Homo sapiens: one gene and its partner. The protein of the gene in region 2 purifies or fractionates together with the protein of the main gene of each other region. This does not show direct contact. Each region holds a gene or a part of one and is shown on either strand. Other genes may lie near its edges.

What was found. The genes of interacting proteins can lie anywhere in the genome.
Region 1: the proteins of MEPE (region 2) and TOMM34 purify together in Homo sapiens (affinity purification with mass spectrometry; 2 studies listed by BioGRID and IntAct, with this or other methods). This does not show direct contact.

The regions. Positions count from the first base shown.
Region 1 is NC_000020.11:44,950,372-44,957,397, forward strand, and holds part of TOMM34 (mitochondrial import receptor subunit TOM34), read right to left. Parts: intron 6,115-7,026; coding exon 6,015-6,114; intron 5,250-6,014; exon of another isoform or gene 4,850-5,249; coding exon 4,697-4,849; intron 1,632-4,696; coding exon 1,462-1,631; intron 1-1,461. UniProt on the Homo sapiens protein: Plays a role in the import of cytosolically synthesized preproteins into mitochondria. Binds the mature portion of precursor proteins. Interacts with cellular components, and possesses weak ATPase activity.
Region 2 is NC_000004.12:87,835,954-87,842,979, reverse strand, and holds part of MEPE (matrix extracellular phosphoglycoprotein isoform a precursor), read right to left. Parts: intron 4,349-7,026; coding exon 4,295-4,348; intron 3,296-4,294; coding exon of another isoform or gene 3,203-3,295; intron 3,054-3,202; exon of another isoform or gene 2,926-3,053; intron 1-2,925. UniProt on the Homo sapiens protein: Promotes renal phosphate excretion and inhibits intestinal phosphate absorption. Promotes bone mineralization by osteoblasts and cartilage mineralization by chondrocytes.

The DNA.
Region 1 (7,026 bases), on a different chromosome or scaffold from region 2:
TGAAGTCCTCAAACACTAAGACTCTAAAGCACATGTTCCTCCTCCTTGTGTTTTAAGACACTGTTTACATGTCTCAGTCCCTCAACTGAGGGAGAGTTCCCTGAGGGCCAAGACTGTCCTCTGTGTCACACTGCTTAGCATACACATGGCTTGGAACACATGGCTCAGTGACCCTGAAAGAATGAAATCAATGGTAGGTGCACTGATTTAAAGAATGAAATCAATGGTAGGTGCACTGATTGAAAGAATGAAATCAATGGCACTGATGCCATCAGGTTCATTAGCACCGCACATTTTCATCCTAGAGAAGAGTGGGGAACACTTACCAGGCTCCCACAAACCAGAGTGAATGCTACCCATGACCAGAGAGGCATTCTCCTGTAGAAGGTGAGTAACTCTTGTCCTCCCCTAACACCTATAGGTCACTTACACATGGCAGGGCTCCATCTCTGATCCCTTCTGCACCTCTAGCCTGAATCCCTAGCTTGCTGGGCTGGGACCATTCCCCTGGAGCATTAAAAGAGCTTCCTAGTGCCTGACAAATGGCCTCTTCATTTCATACAGTTGAGGTGAGGAATCTCCTGTTTTTGGCTGCTTGGATCTCCTTTCTCTTCTTCATGCTTCTCCAGGGATTCACACAGTGTACATGCTCCTGGGAAGCATCACCCTCTAGTTCTGGAGGTGGGGCAGGTGCCTCAGGGTGACCTAATCACAAAATCTCATCCGCCGGTTATGGTGTGTACTTCAGGGAATGGCCTGTGACCATGAAGACCAGAATAGATTGAGAAAATGATTGAGAAAATATGTGAGCTAGAGTTTTTTGGGGGAAAAAAATCCTATCTTTTCCTAGTGAGCTATCAGAGAAAGACTTTCTTTCTCTGGGTCATGAGGCATGGGGTATGGATGTGAGGCCGGGAACTGCTATAGCTATTTTGCTACTAGGAGGGAAGCTTGCCAAAGACAAAGCTGACGCACAACAGAAAATAAAGCTGTGATAAGTACAGAAAAATGGAGTTAGTCTGTTAATATACTGAGCTGCTGGAGCAAACCTTGCCTGAATTCTCTCGGATTTTTCAGTTTTATGAGCCAATAAATTCCCTATACTATGTTTACCATGTTGAGCTTTCTGTTTTTGCAACCAAAAACATCCTAAGTACTACATCCCAAGTGCTACCAGAGGAAAGAGAAGGGAACTCACACTGCATGCCTATGTGCCAGGCTGGGAGTTTTACATGTCTTATGTCATTCAGTCCTCATGGTTGTGAGGAAGACTTTATCATCACCCTCACTATACAGCTGAGAAAACAGTCTCTAAGAGGTGAAGACTTGTATTTTGTTTTATACTTTGTTCCTAAGATTATTTTTATAACTCAGCTAAACAATGCCAATTTTTGCAGGACTACTCTAAAGAAAATGGATAGTGGGAGATTGCAAGACTCTGGGCAGGGAGTCACAGCTCACCTCTGTTCTTTGTAGCTGTGGTTTCTTTGGATTTGCTTTTAGCCATCTCTTTGTGGTTCTCCGAAGGCAAGGAATTCCACCTCTTCTGAGCTGAAACAGGCACCAAGGGGATTGAGGGCAGCTTCAGGCGCCACTCAGGCCCAAGCGAGTCCATGAGAGCTCTGGTCATTCTGGAAAAGAAGGCAGGATTGCAGGGAGGTTTCCAGCTGGGTCAAGAAGATATTTCTCCTTTCACACACCCATGGGAGGTAGGCCTTTTCAGAAGAGCCAGAGCTGCCACCCTCCCCCTGGTCGGAACCACCTCTTTAGCTCCTCCAACACGTGCAATACAGGAACCCATAAACACCATCTCAGATCAGTCCCCATGACATTCCTTGAGCTTGGTCAAACTATGTTACCTTTAAAGTGGTGATCTGTTGCTTGTTAAGGATACTTAAACCATGATCCAAAAAGACTATAGTTTCTCCAAGAAAGAATCATACATTTTGTTTCATATTTTATCAATGAATCAAGTACACAACCATGCAAGCACCTGACATTTGTTTAATGCTCAGGCTTTTTAAAAAATGCAAAGCTTATGTCATTCTCAAATCTTACAACTCCTCAGGGGTTCCCAATTCCCTAGGCTAATGTGGCATGTGAGATCTGGTCCCCACCCCTTCCTGTCCCCCTTCACTGTGAGCCACATTCTCTTCTGATCCTTCTGTTCAAGACTTTGCACATGCTTTTTCCTCTACCCAGAACAACCATTTTCATTTTGGAAAAAGATTGCCACCTTCCAGGCCCGGCTAACTCCAACTTATTCTTTAGATTTCAGCTTAAAATGCCACCCAGAGACCAAGTTCATTCTGTCAACTGATCTCCAGCACCTGGTATGTCACCTAGCAACCACCAAGGCCCAATCAGTTATGTGTTGAATGAGTGAATAATGCTAACTGTATACTTTTTCTGCTCCTACAACCATGTTTCCTATATTACAAGAATAAAAACCACAGACTGTATCACTACAAATTCCAAGATGTCTCTGGCTAGGCTGTTTTCCTGGCGGCCAAGCTATTTCAAACCTCTGCTCTCCTCAAACCTGTTCCCTGGCCCTTCCCCTTTTTTAGAGCAAACTTCCTCATACCCCAAATACAAACCTACCTGCCTGGGTGCCCAATCCTTCCTATTTCTCTCCTGTCACAACAGAAGAGACAATGGGACCAATCCACCCACCTAAGCTCTGGATCCCATCTCCTCTTGCCTCTTTCAGGGACCACACCCAGGCAGCACCTCCCTCTCCCACATCTTCATCCTTCCTCTCTACTAACTCCAACCGTCAGCATTTAAGTCCCTTTAACTCTTTCCTCACCTAATAAAACCATACTGGACACCCCTTGCCATCACAGGTATACTCCCCAGCTTCTCTTCAAGCCTGACTTTCTGAAAGCATTGCCCTCTGGCTCCTGATCCCACTGACCAGCTTCCATCAGAGCCACCGGTGACTTCATTGCCAAACCTTTAATGTAAGCTCCTTGGAACACCTGACACTAATGATGTCTCCATCTTTCTTGAAATACTCCTTCCCTTGGGACATCAATGCCCTGTTTCCTCCCACCTCTCTAGCTGCTGTTCCTCTGTAAGTCCCTCAAATGCTGGAGTTTCTCAAAGCTCCATCCTCTTCACACTAGCTGTGATGTTCTTTTTCTTTCTCACAGCCCTAATCCACCTCTGCGCTGATGACCCTCAAATCCTTATGTCTGGCCTGTATTTTCTTCCTTTGTTCCATGTAAATACCCAACCGTCCTACTTAGATCTCTAGTCTTATGTCCCACAGTCACCTCCGACTGAATGTCAATAATCTGAGTGTCTTCTTCTATTCCTCCCTTCTCGATACCCCGCAACCACTAAAGCTTGTTGATATACTTCCTACATGTCCCCTGACTGGTCCCATTGTTTTCTCTCCACCCTCTCCCCTGGATTGCTGCATGACTCCTTTCTATTCTGTTGCCCTTCATATCATCCCTCAACATGGCAGCAAAGAGCTTTTCTCTAAAATACAAATCTGCTCATGTTGCTCCACTGCTAAAGACCTTTTCATAAAGGCTGACTTGCTCAGGATTAAGTCCAAGCCCTGAACCCTGGGTCTTGTGTGACTTGGCCTCACCAACCTGTCCCAAGCTGAGCTCCTGCCTGCAGCACCATGTGAAACCGACTTCTTACAATTCCTGTGATCTGTCACACTTGCTCACCTTTGCACACGCTGCTCTGTCTTCTGGCTAACCCCCTACCCCATATCTCTCATTCTTAGCTCACCTCCTCTGAAAAGCTCTCTCTGGCCTCCCCCTCTCCCTCTCAGCTAGCTAGGTGGCTCCTTTCTGGCCTCAGAGCCCCCTGTGCTGCCTCCTACCATGGCGCTTATCATGTTGTATTGTGCTTGCCTATTACTGACTGGTGTCTTCCTTGAGACCGGGACCTCTATGACGGCAGGAAGAGGTATGTCTCAGTCATCAGCCCAGGTCCTAGAGCAAAGTCTGTCACATAATTGGTAGATTTTGTGGAATCAGATAAGTTAAAAAGGAGGCAAAGAGAAAACAAAGAATGCTGGCAGACAAGTCAAGCCAGAAATAAAGCACTAAATACATACCATGAAGTCCCTGTTAAGGGTTTGCTATTAGTGCAGTGTTTGGCTTTCTAGCCGCACACGCAGAGGGGAAACATGATCAGTTATACAAATGACAATATCCATGAGATAAAAGCCAATAACTGCTCAGAGACCAGAAAGGAATTGCACCTGGGGAACCTCTTGGATTGGTCACAGTGCAATATACTGAACCATGTCCACAAACCATATCCTTTTAGGCTTGTCATAGCTGCTTGGGCTTGTGTCTTATTCTTCTAATTAGCGTTAGCGCTTTGAAGGTAAGTGGGGTCTGTATCTCTTTCTCATTTTGGTATCCCCCACTGAACCGGGCACAACACCTTAAACAGTGTACAATAAATATTACTGTGTACATAGATACTGTGAGGCACATGTAGGCAAATATCAATCAATCAATCTTAGTAATTGACTCCCTGAAAACCTGCTAAATAAAAAAGCAGATTTTCCTTTCTCAGCTTCCCCTACATGCCCATCGGGAGTTTTTTAAGTGTAGCCAAAGGGATCCCCTCAGAAGACAGACAAGGCAATGGCCCGCAGCCAATCAAGAAGGACAGGGAGTTGCCGTGGAGACCACCTGCTGGGAATGGAGCTCACCTGTTGATGCCTTCTACGGCTGACGTCACATTATCATCAATCTGCAGCACAGTCTTATAGTCAACATAGGCCATAGGGTACTTCTCCAGAGCCTCATAAGCAGATGCTCGCCGCAGCAGGGGCTTAATGCTGAAGGGAACCAAGGCCAGTGCTCTAGAATAGGAGGCAAAAATGTCAACTGGCTGGCTGCTGAGCCACCAGGGTTTCCCTACAGTTTCTTCCAGGCAGGGTTATCTGGAGCACTCAGCGTACAGGAAGTAATTTCTGGCCGAGAGACATGGCTAAAAACGCCAAACCTCAGAACAGGGATTTTTCAACGTAGACTGAAGTGAGGAGGAGAAAGAAGGCAGAGAAACATGAATTTTGTTAAATGTGTGTGCACATGCATCAATTTTCATAGTTTCAGTTCCCCCAAAATCAAGAACAAAAGCCTCATGGCTTTCATGCTACTATGTTTTTTTACAGTTGTGGTCTAGTGGGAATAACAAACAAGCTTTGGAGTCAGATGGGGTGGTGTCTGAATTCCACCTCTGCTGCTAACTATGTGACCCAGGTAAATCACTTTACTGCCCCAACCCTCAGCAACCAAGTTCTGGCCTGGGACACATGGTAACCGTACCCCACAGATTGGTTGTGAACACTCAAAGAGGGAAATCTGGCACAAGGCATGGCACAAATTAATTCAGCACAGGCTCTGTGAGTATGCTCACACCCCTCCTGCTCTCCTGGCTATCACCAGGGCAGGAATCTAAAGCAATGTCAGAGGACATCAGATCTGAGAACACATTTCAGGTAAATGTGAGAGTTTAATGATGATAAAAGAATATTAGACTGGCTTGAAGAAAAAGAGATATGAAACATTGTTCAGTGTCCTCTAAAACTGGTCATTCATGAATACCATTTTTTTCCTTTCTCCTTCTGAGACAATCTATTAACCTCTATTCCTCCTTCTTTCCTTCGCTCCCTTCCCCTCACATACTCCCATCCCAGAAAAGCACCTGGGCAAGCCAGTTACTGGTCTGCCACTCCACCTTATTCCCAGGTTTCAAATTGCACAAAGACTTTACGGCCTGCTTCTAACTGCCCATCCCACTCCTTTTTCGGCAGCAGAGCCAAGACTCCAAAGATGCAAGTCACGGGCCATAAGGACCAAATAAAGACTCCCATTCTCAGTGACCTGGTGAAACTCAGTGACACTTTCTTAATATCTGTCCCAGATGTAATTGATGGGATCCTTCCAAAGAAGAAACAAGCCAGATTAACCCAGCCTCCTCTTCTGAGACCCTCAGGCATCCCAAAATTACCCTTGGCCACTTACGAAGTGCAATCTTTGATGCAGTCTCTGCAGTTTCCATCCTTCAAGTGACATGCTGCTCGGTTGGAGTAGAGAACACTTTCTTCTTCTGGGTCTGAAGAACCTGCCCAGATAGAGTGGGGAAGATGATCAGTTTGGAAAATGGGTGCCTCAGGGCATTAGGATACATTTCAAACTCAGAGCTCTTTGGGCCTTGTGTTAAGGCAGTAGAGATAACTATAACCTGTTCAGGCTTGTTGGTCTGCTGGGCTGGCGTGTTTGTCATTCTTATGTGACAGAAGGACACTGCGCTTTTTGCCATTCAAAGGGAACCAAGTATTTCCTCATTCACTCATTCCAGCACTGAACTTGATAACAGACAAAAGATAAACAAGAAATAGCTAGCTTCTGCCTCAAAGAAATCCATGCTGTAACTACTTGGGTTTGGGTGGATAAATGGATGGATAGGTGTGTATTTTATTACAAAAAGCATTTAAATCCAAGAAAGAAAGAAAAAAAAAAAAAGAAAAGAAAGGGAGGGAGGGAGGGAACAAGATGATAAACGTATGATAAATGGATTGACCAAAAGTTGTAGGGGCACAAAACACCCATGAAAGACATGAGACTAGTTTTACCTGGTCAAGCCAGGGAGGACTTTGTCAGGGAAATGATAATTGAGCTGGGTGTGATGGGAGTACAGAGAACTTAATCAGGAAAAAGTCTTAAGCTACCCCATGGGGAGAATTATTAGACATTCTTCTAAGGCAGTCCTTACCCTCAGGAATCGCAGAGGCTCAAGTCCTTCACTGTGGCCACCATGATCTTTATTTACGTATTTTTTTTTGAGACAGAGTCCTGCTCTGTTGCCCAGCCTGGAGTGCAGTGGAGCGATCTCCGCTCACTGCAACTCCACCTCCTGGGTTCAAGCAATTCTCCTGCCTCAGCCTCAGCCTCCTGAGTAGCTGGGATTACAGGCACTCGCCACCACGCCTGGTAGAGACAGGGTTTCACTATGTTGGCCAAGCTGGTCTTGAAC
Region 2 (7,026 bases):
ATAGAACCTGAGCTCAGAAAGCAATATACAGTTAGAGATAGAGAATTGGGTATCACAGGCTCTTAGTGTGTCCCAGTACAAGTCCTTCCCAGTTTTCATAGCCCATGGTCAACTCTTCTTTCCTTGAACATCTTACATGCTAATTGTTTATTACTTTTCAGATCCTATTGTTTCACTTATACATAGTTGTAATATTTTCAATAATTTTTAACCTGAAACTAGTATCCATTTTTCCTGATGCAACACCTAATAAGGTTATTTCCTCTTTCCTATGAAACCCTCCCAACATTTGAAAAAGTTTAGTGTTCCTTCGAACTCGCTGGCTGCTTTCTCTTCTCCAGGTTGACACTACAGTTCTCTTGTGTTAGGTGACTATGTTCAGACCCATCACCTGATTATGAATTCCCTTTTGTTTGTGGGGTTCCAAATCAGACCTTGACTCTGATGTGGCCTGATCGACCCCAAGCACGGGGCATCCATCCACTTCCTTGCCTTGACCACAGCCCTATTTTTACTAATACAACTTAATTTTGTGCTTTTTGACAACCACTTCAATTTGTTGGCTCTTGTCAAGCATGTGGACATCTTAGATGTGTTCATTAAAGATGTCAGAATACACGAGAGCTCCCTGATGGAGAGAAAAAGAGCATGCAGCCAGAAGCTCATAGTATTTGGTCAAGTGTGTAGGGAAGGTAGCAAAGAAAATAGAAAAACCAAACGCAGGGAAGCCAGGATCATAGGGAATATGTTGAGTGAAACAGTAGGCAGGAATTGCCAAATAGTTTTTCTTAATCCCTCAGTCCAGTACTCACGAGAGTAGCTGTGCTATGGAAAGAACACATGCATTAGAATCAGTTGTCTCACTGCCGTTTATGGGCTGTGTGATCTTGGGAGCATTATTTTACTTCTCTGAGCCTTAGCTTTTTTAGCTGTAAAATAAAAATGATATCTACCTTTCAGTATTTTGGGGAGAATTAAATGATTTTTATTAAATAATGCATGTAAAGCATACAGAACTGGGCATAGCCCTTTAATGAATGATAGTTTCTTTCCTAGATAATATTAATGATAGTCATGTAATTACTGGATACACAACGGTTTTCCCAGTCTCTGGACTTCTCTAATATTGGTTGTAGAGGCAGATGAAGATGGACAAACTCTGGACCCCCCTGCTCTTGAATTGCCCAAGTGTCATCCTCGGGCTGTGTGTTCTGTAAGCTTGTAGCCGTCGATGGGATGTTATCTGAAATAGATTTTGATTGGACTCTCTCTTTTTTTTCACTCCCAAACAGAAGTACTGTTCTGCTTGGAGGACTGTCTGCTTTTATATATGTATCTTATTAACTGTTGGAAGTAGGCGGAAATGTTGAATCAGCTCACATTTGAATCTAAAATAAAAATGGCTTTTAGAAGTGCCCTCTACTTTTAAGAAGCTAGCTAATATATGGTCTGCAAAAGTGCCAATGTATAATATTTGTAAAATATAATTTGAAATTACTTATTTGTAAAAGTTATGGCATTATTGTTCATTAATTTTTTAATATTGGTGGGTATATTCTGAAATACGATTTTGCCATAAGAAAAAAATAGAAATAAACTTTGTAGTATATCACTAAATAAAAAGTATTTTAAATATTTGACTTGAGTAATTGAGTCCTGGAAAGTTTTACTTGGACATTTATGTTTTCCTTTGCAATCAAGTTCATTGTTGTTTGTTTACTCATTACTAAGATAACCTTTTGAGTTAAACACTAAATCTAAACTCAGTAGATTATAATAATCTCTTCCTAATTTTTTCTCTCCCTTGTCTGAAGTGGGAAGTTATGTTTTATTTTCGGTGCTTCTCTGCTTTTAAAAAAGTAACATGTACACTAATGAATTGTGTGCATTTTATTAGAAGACTGAGTAGAATAATTTTATAAATGAAAACATGAAACAACTTTTATCCTGTGGTATATGATGGCTATCTTTGCATTGAAGAAAATATCAAAAAATAGAAAAAAACTTTTCTTACATTTGCTTGTGTTAAATGATTTCTGACTGTTCGATGGTTTATGTACCAGTTGGCTGGCTGCTTTTCTGTGCTCTGCTTTTCTGTCTCCATGCTTTGGTTCCTATGAGTTTTTTCATGGAGAACGGCCTCACCCATTCACTTCTGTTTGCTCAAATCCTACTCATCCTCCATGGCCCCACACAATTATTTCCATTATGAACACCAGAGGCCAGGAACTAATTTCTTTCTACTCCAAGCCCTTAAAGCATGATCTTTTTTTTCTTCTCGGTACTACTCACATAGCACCTCCCACATTCTGTCTTGTTTTACAATAATTTTTGTAAGTGCCTTTTGTTTCTTTTCTAACTCTAAGATCCTGGAGAGAAAGAATTTGTTTTCTCCATCATTTTATCTCACATAGTATCTTACACACCAGTTAAGAACTCCACATATATTTGGCAAATGGATATGTTTTAACTTATTTATAGTTAGGTGTAGTCTTAGAGATGTCATCTAAAGGATATCGATGGCAGAAGAAAATAACATTCTGAAGGGAAACTATTACTTCCATGGGAAATAAAACCAGATTTGGAAAAAGTAAATAGCCCTTTTGCTGATGGCATTTCAAGCTATTTCCAGCCCTTTGGCCGATGAATCTACAAGAAGGGACTGAGTGAAAAGAATTATTGTCATTGTAGTGACAAGGGCCTCATTCTTTTACTTCTGAGCAACCCAACACAGATGGAGTTATCCATAGAATGAATTTAAGAGACAGTAAAATGTGTCACTCATTAGGCCAAAATGGTTTTTCCTCTTAGCCGTCCCCTGCTGAGATCCCCACCATCAGAGCATATGGTAGAATATGTCAAGAAAACTTTCTTATAAAACACCAAATGTTACTCAGAAGCAGTAACACAGCAGTCCATGGGCACCTGAGGTCCATGAGTATCACACCTGCAGCCACAGGTCCTGAAGCAGAGCGAGATGTGGGCCGAGGCATGGGATGGGGATCAGGAAGATTCTGGGACCCAGAGTTTTGTAGTAGAGAGGCTTGAGGAGCCTGGGGAGGGAGGGAAGGGACAAAAGTGCCAGCCATAAGACAGAAACCCCAGAGCAAGCAAAAGTAAACTTTGCCTCCCCTACATTTTCCTCTAGGGCTAGTCCAGAGTTTAGTCATGCTGAGAATGGTCATTCAGAGATTCAGCTTACCTTTACATCAGTTTGATTTTTCTTCTCAGGTGACATGTAAACACACTTAAAAACATAATGCCCATGTTTCTCATAGTGACCCTTGTATGTTATCTACAAAAACACAACATTATATTGAGGCACGTTTTATCTCTTACAAAGAAGTTTTTGGGCTCTTTGTAATAATATAAGAAACTTTAAAAGTTGGGTGAAGTTGAATTCTACCTCTGACAAATGGTAGTACTTCTTATAACCACAGGAGGGTGTGTGTCAGCCGGCTCCCGAAGACAGCAACTTGTTCCTTCTCTTTTCTACATAACTCTAAATCTGTTTTCCCTAAGGGCCTGTCAACTGCTTTCTGTCCTAGGGTGGATCGATTTTATTACCAAACGTCTATGGAAATGGAGCATGTGGAAATATTTTCAGGTGGGAGGGGGTGAGAGGACCAGGAGAAAGACAGGATTTACAATATTCATGTCTGATGTCTAATTGGCAAAACTCACAGCATGAACATTCAGGCTCTTAAGCTGGCAACGTTGGCCTTTGTAATTTTCAGCTGAGATGAAGTACAGAAGATTGTTAGTTCTTAGAACATAATTTTCTGTGATAGGCAGAAGCAAGCTGCAATTTGGTGGCATGCAAAGCGGGGAGGATTCATTTAACTGGATGCATATGGAAAGCTGACTCCACGGACATAGAATTCCCCATTCAGATCTGATAGCCACCTTCCCCTTTACTCCCTTATTTATCATTCTGAGAGCAAAGTGTTTGTCAGGTACATGTGTGGGAAAATATTGTTTGCTAGTAGCAATGTTCCCAAATTCTTACTCACTTAGCCCCATGAAGGTTGCCTGGCAAAGCATTGTTTCATTTGAAGGAAGAAATCATACTGGGGAGAAATAAATCTCTATTCACAATGTTTTCCTCTTTTCTGTCACACATGGTGTGTGAGTTACAATACCTGATTGACTAGAAAGTGCCAACATTATGTTGTATATTTTTTCACTTCCATTCAAAGTGCCCAAGACTATTTTGACAGTTACACTTTTCTCTTACTGACTTTTTCTTTATAGAGCTGAAATAGAGTTATTTGAAAAGATGAATTCTGTTTACCCTCTGCTCTTCCACACAGCTTTGCTTAGTTTTCTCAGTCTGTGGTTGAAATGTCTGAAAGGAAACAAGAAACAAAACTTCACCCACTAGAACATTCTATTTCATTAACTTCTTCAAACAAATGTTTCATTTATTTTTCTCTCACTGAGTTGTATTATTCACTGTGGAAAATCATTCTAACCAAAAGAAGATTGACACACTCATCGCATTAATATAATATTTGTTTCAATATTACGAAAGACAGTGCCAGCTTTCTGCCCCCAGAGGGAGACAGTGCCGTCTCCACTACAGAACTGGATTCAAGCTCAGACAACCGCTAAGTGGGTGTGGTGGGGGAGTAGGGAGGGATGGCACCCCAGACGAAGGAGCTTGGCTGCCATCAGAATCCACTGAAAAAGAAGTTTTCACTGGCAAACTGGGAGTTGTTAAATATAAGTGAACTAAAATCAGAGTTTGACGATTTAAATTGTGTGTGTGCATTAATTATATAAGTTGAGTAACTGTAATATTGAATTAAGATATGATGCTGCTGATGGCCCAGGGAGAGTCAAACCATAGCCGTTCATGTGAATGGTAGGATCGCAATTAAGGACAAAAACTTATTGCTGCCAGATGTTACATTCTGAGAAGGAAAAATGGAGGTGGCCAGCAGATTAGGATAAATTCTGTTTCTTGGTTTGACATAAAGTGTCAAAATTTCTTGAGGGTAGCGTAGGGTGAGGGGTAGCTATTGAAGCGCAGAAAGGGCAGAAATGAAGAAAGAACAGACCTCGGCAGTTTGTCCCAGTCCTTTGGGCTGAAGTTTGCATACCACAGGAAAGCACACAGAACAGGGACCCTAAAATCTGAGAGCAACTGTTTTATTAAAGGAATAGATGTAAGTTCTTTAATTCTCAGTATTTTTCATTTACCTCTTTCTTTCAGAAACTCCTAGCCTATCTCAGATGTGGCACTGGGAACCAATGGGCGGACTGGGCCGTGTTTGAATGGGTGTGCTACAGTGGAAGCAGGCATCATGGTGGATCAATCATATAAAAGAGAGAACCCCTTAAGGGAAAGATTGAATAAAGAGATAAACAGAAAGAGGGCCGCCTAGGCCAGCTGTCCTATTTACCTGGAAAGTGTTCTTCCTGAAGAAGCCTTAAGCTTCTATATTTTGTTTAATACAGACAGGTTGTTGCTTGCACTAAGATATTGGGAATGCCCCTGCTTGCTCTCAGCTCCTTTGTATCTCCAGCTCAATCTGAACTGATTCCTTCATTTCCCAAGCTCATTTGCCCTCTGTGTTCAGACTGGGTTTGGGTGAAGGAGGCCTGGCATGAGTCTGGAGGGGGGGAAGGAGAGAGAAGCCAGGGTATGTCCTTCTCTACTCTCCGTGTTTGGGGCTGCATCTCTAGAGTTGGGTACATCTCCTTTGTGGTCCTAGTTCCCCCAGCCAGGGGCCTAGGAGCAGCACCTTTTTTTTTCCTTCCAGCCCTAAGCCTGGTAATAGCTTCGATCCTTGGGTGGTCTCACCACCCCTGGTTGGCTTTTCTGTTCTTCCTTATACTTTATAGCTAGCTTCCCTTAGAAAGTCGCTCTACTGAGCTCCCTGTAGTGGATTTTGTTTTCTGGACTGGACTCTGGCAGATAAAATCATCTTCAAAATATAAAACTCAGAAGTTTAGAAAGCACCTCCATGGCTGGACTCCAAGGCATAGCTGCCTAATATTCAATTCCATTCTAGAAAATAACAATAGTTTATCAATAACACCTTCTATTTATAGGACTCTTTATAGTTTGTAAACTGCTTTTGTACTTATAATCTCATATGAGTCCCAAAGTAACCTTTATAAGATGAGCAGTAGAAGAAACAGAAGTGCCTACACTCATAGTTGGTAGTTGCAGTAGAAGTAGAGAAGATATTTTAATTTAAATCTTCTGCCTCAAAGTCCCAGGGTTAAAATAATAAATTTTTGAATGATTAAATATGAAAAAGCATTTAGTAATAAGAGGAAATGTTCCTAAACTTTATATTAATTATCGTCAAGGCATCTTTTATAGTTTTATCCTTTATTGCATTTCTTATGTTGATTCTTATATGATCATGTGAATATAAATTTGGACAATTATATCACTCTTCAAAAATATAAAACCAGGGCAAACAGTTCTGGAAATTGGACTATAGGAAGAAGAAAGCATAAAAATGAGATGGGCAGATATTAAGCAAAAGAAAGAAATGATAGTATGGGGTGTCAGGGATCTTCTTACAGAACACACACACACACACACATATGGATTAGAAACATACTTGACAATATAGAGTACCTCGGTACAGTTTTGATTTATTGTGACTTATAACAAAGTCTTTCTAGTCTAACTGCATCTTGATGAATATTAACCGAATTGCATAGCCTAATAAACATTCATTTTCTTCCTTTTAAAAATCATTTAGAATTTGGCTTATAATTCTAAGACGTATGCAAGTGGCTGAGTATATACTAATTTCTTAAGCCACCAATCTATCATTTAAAAATTCAGGTAATTACTAAAATGGCATCTATATACCTGGAAGAAAACATCATATTTAATGATTCACAGTTACAAATGTTGCCTCTGCATCCTTGCTGAGCTGCTTTCATTTGAAATACGCATCCCTCCCTTGTCCCCTCTATACCCCCAAGCAGATGTCTTAGGCTTGAATGTGGCCCTGTAATGGAGATGGCATTGTCTGCCTCTGGGCAGGAAAGCTG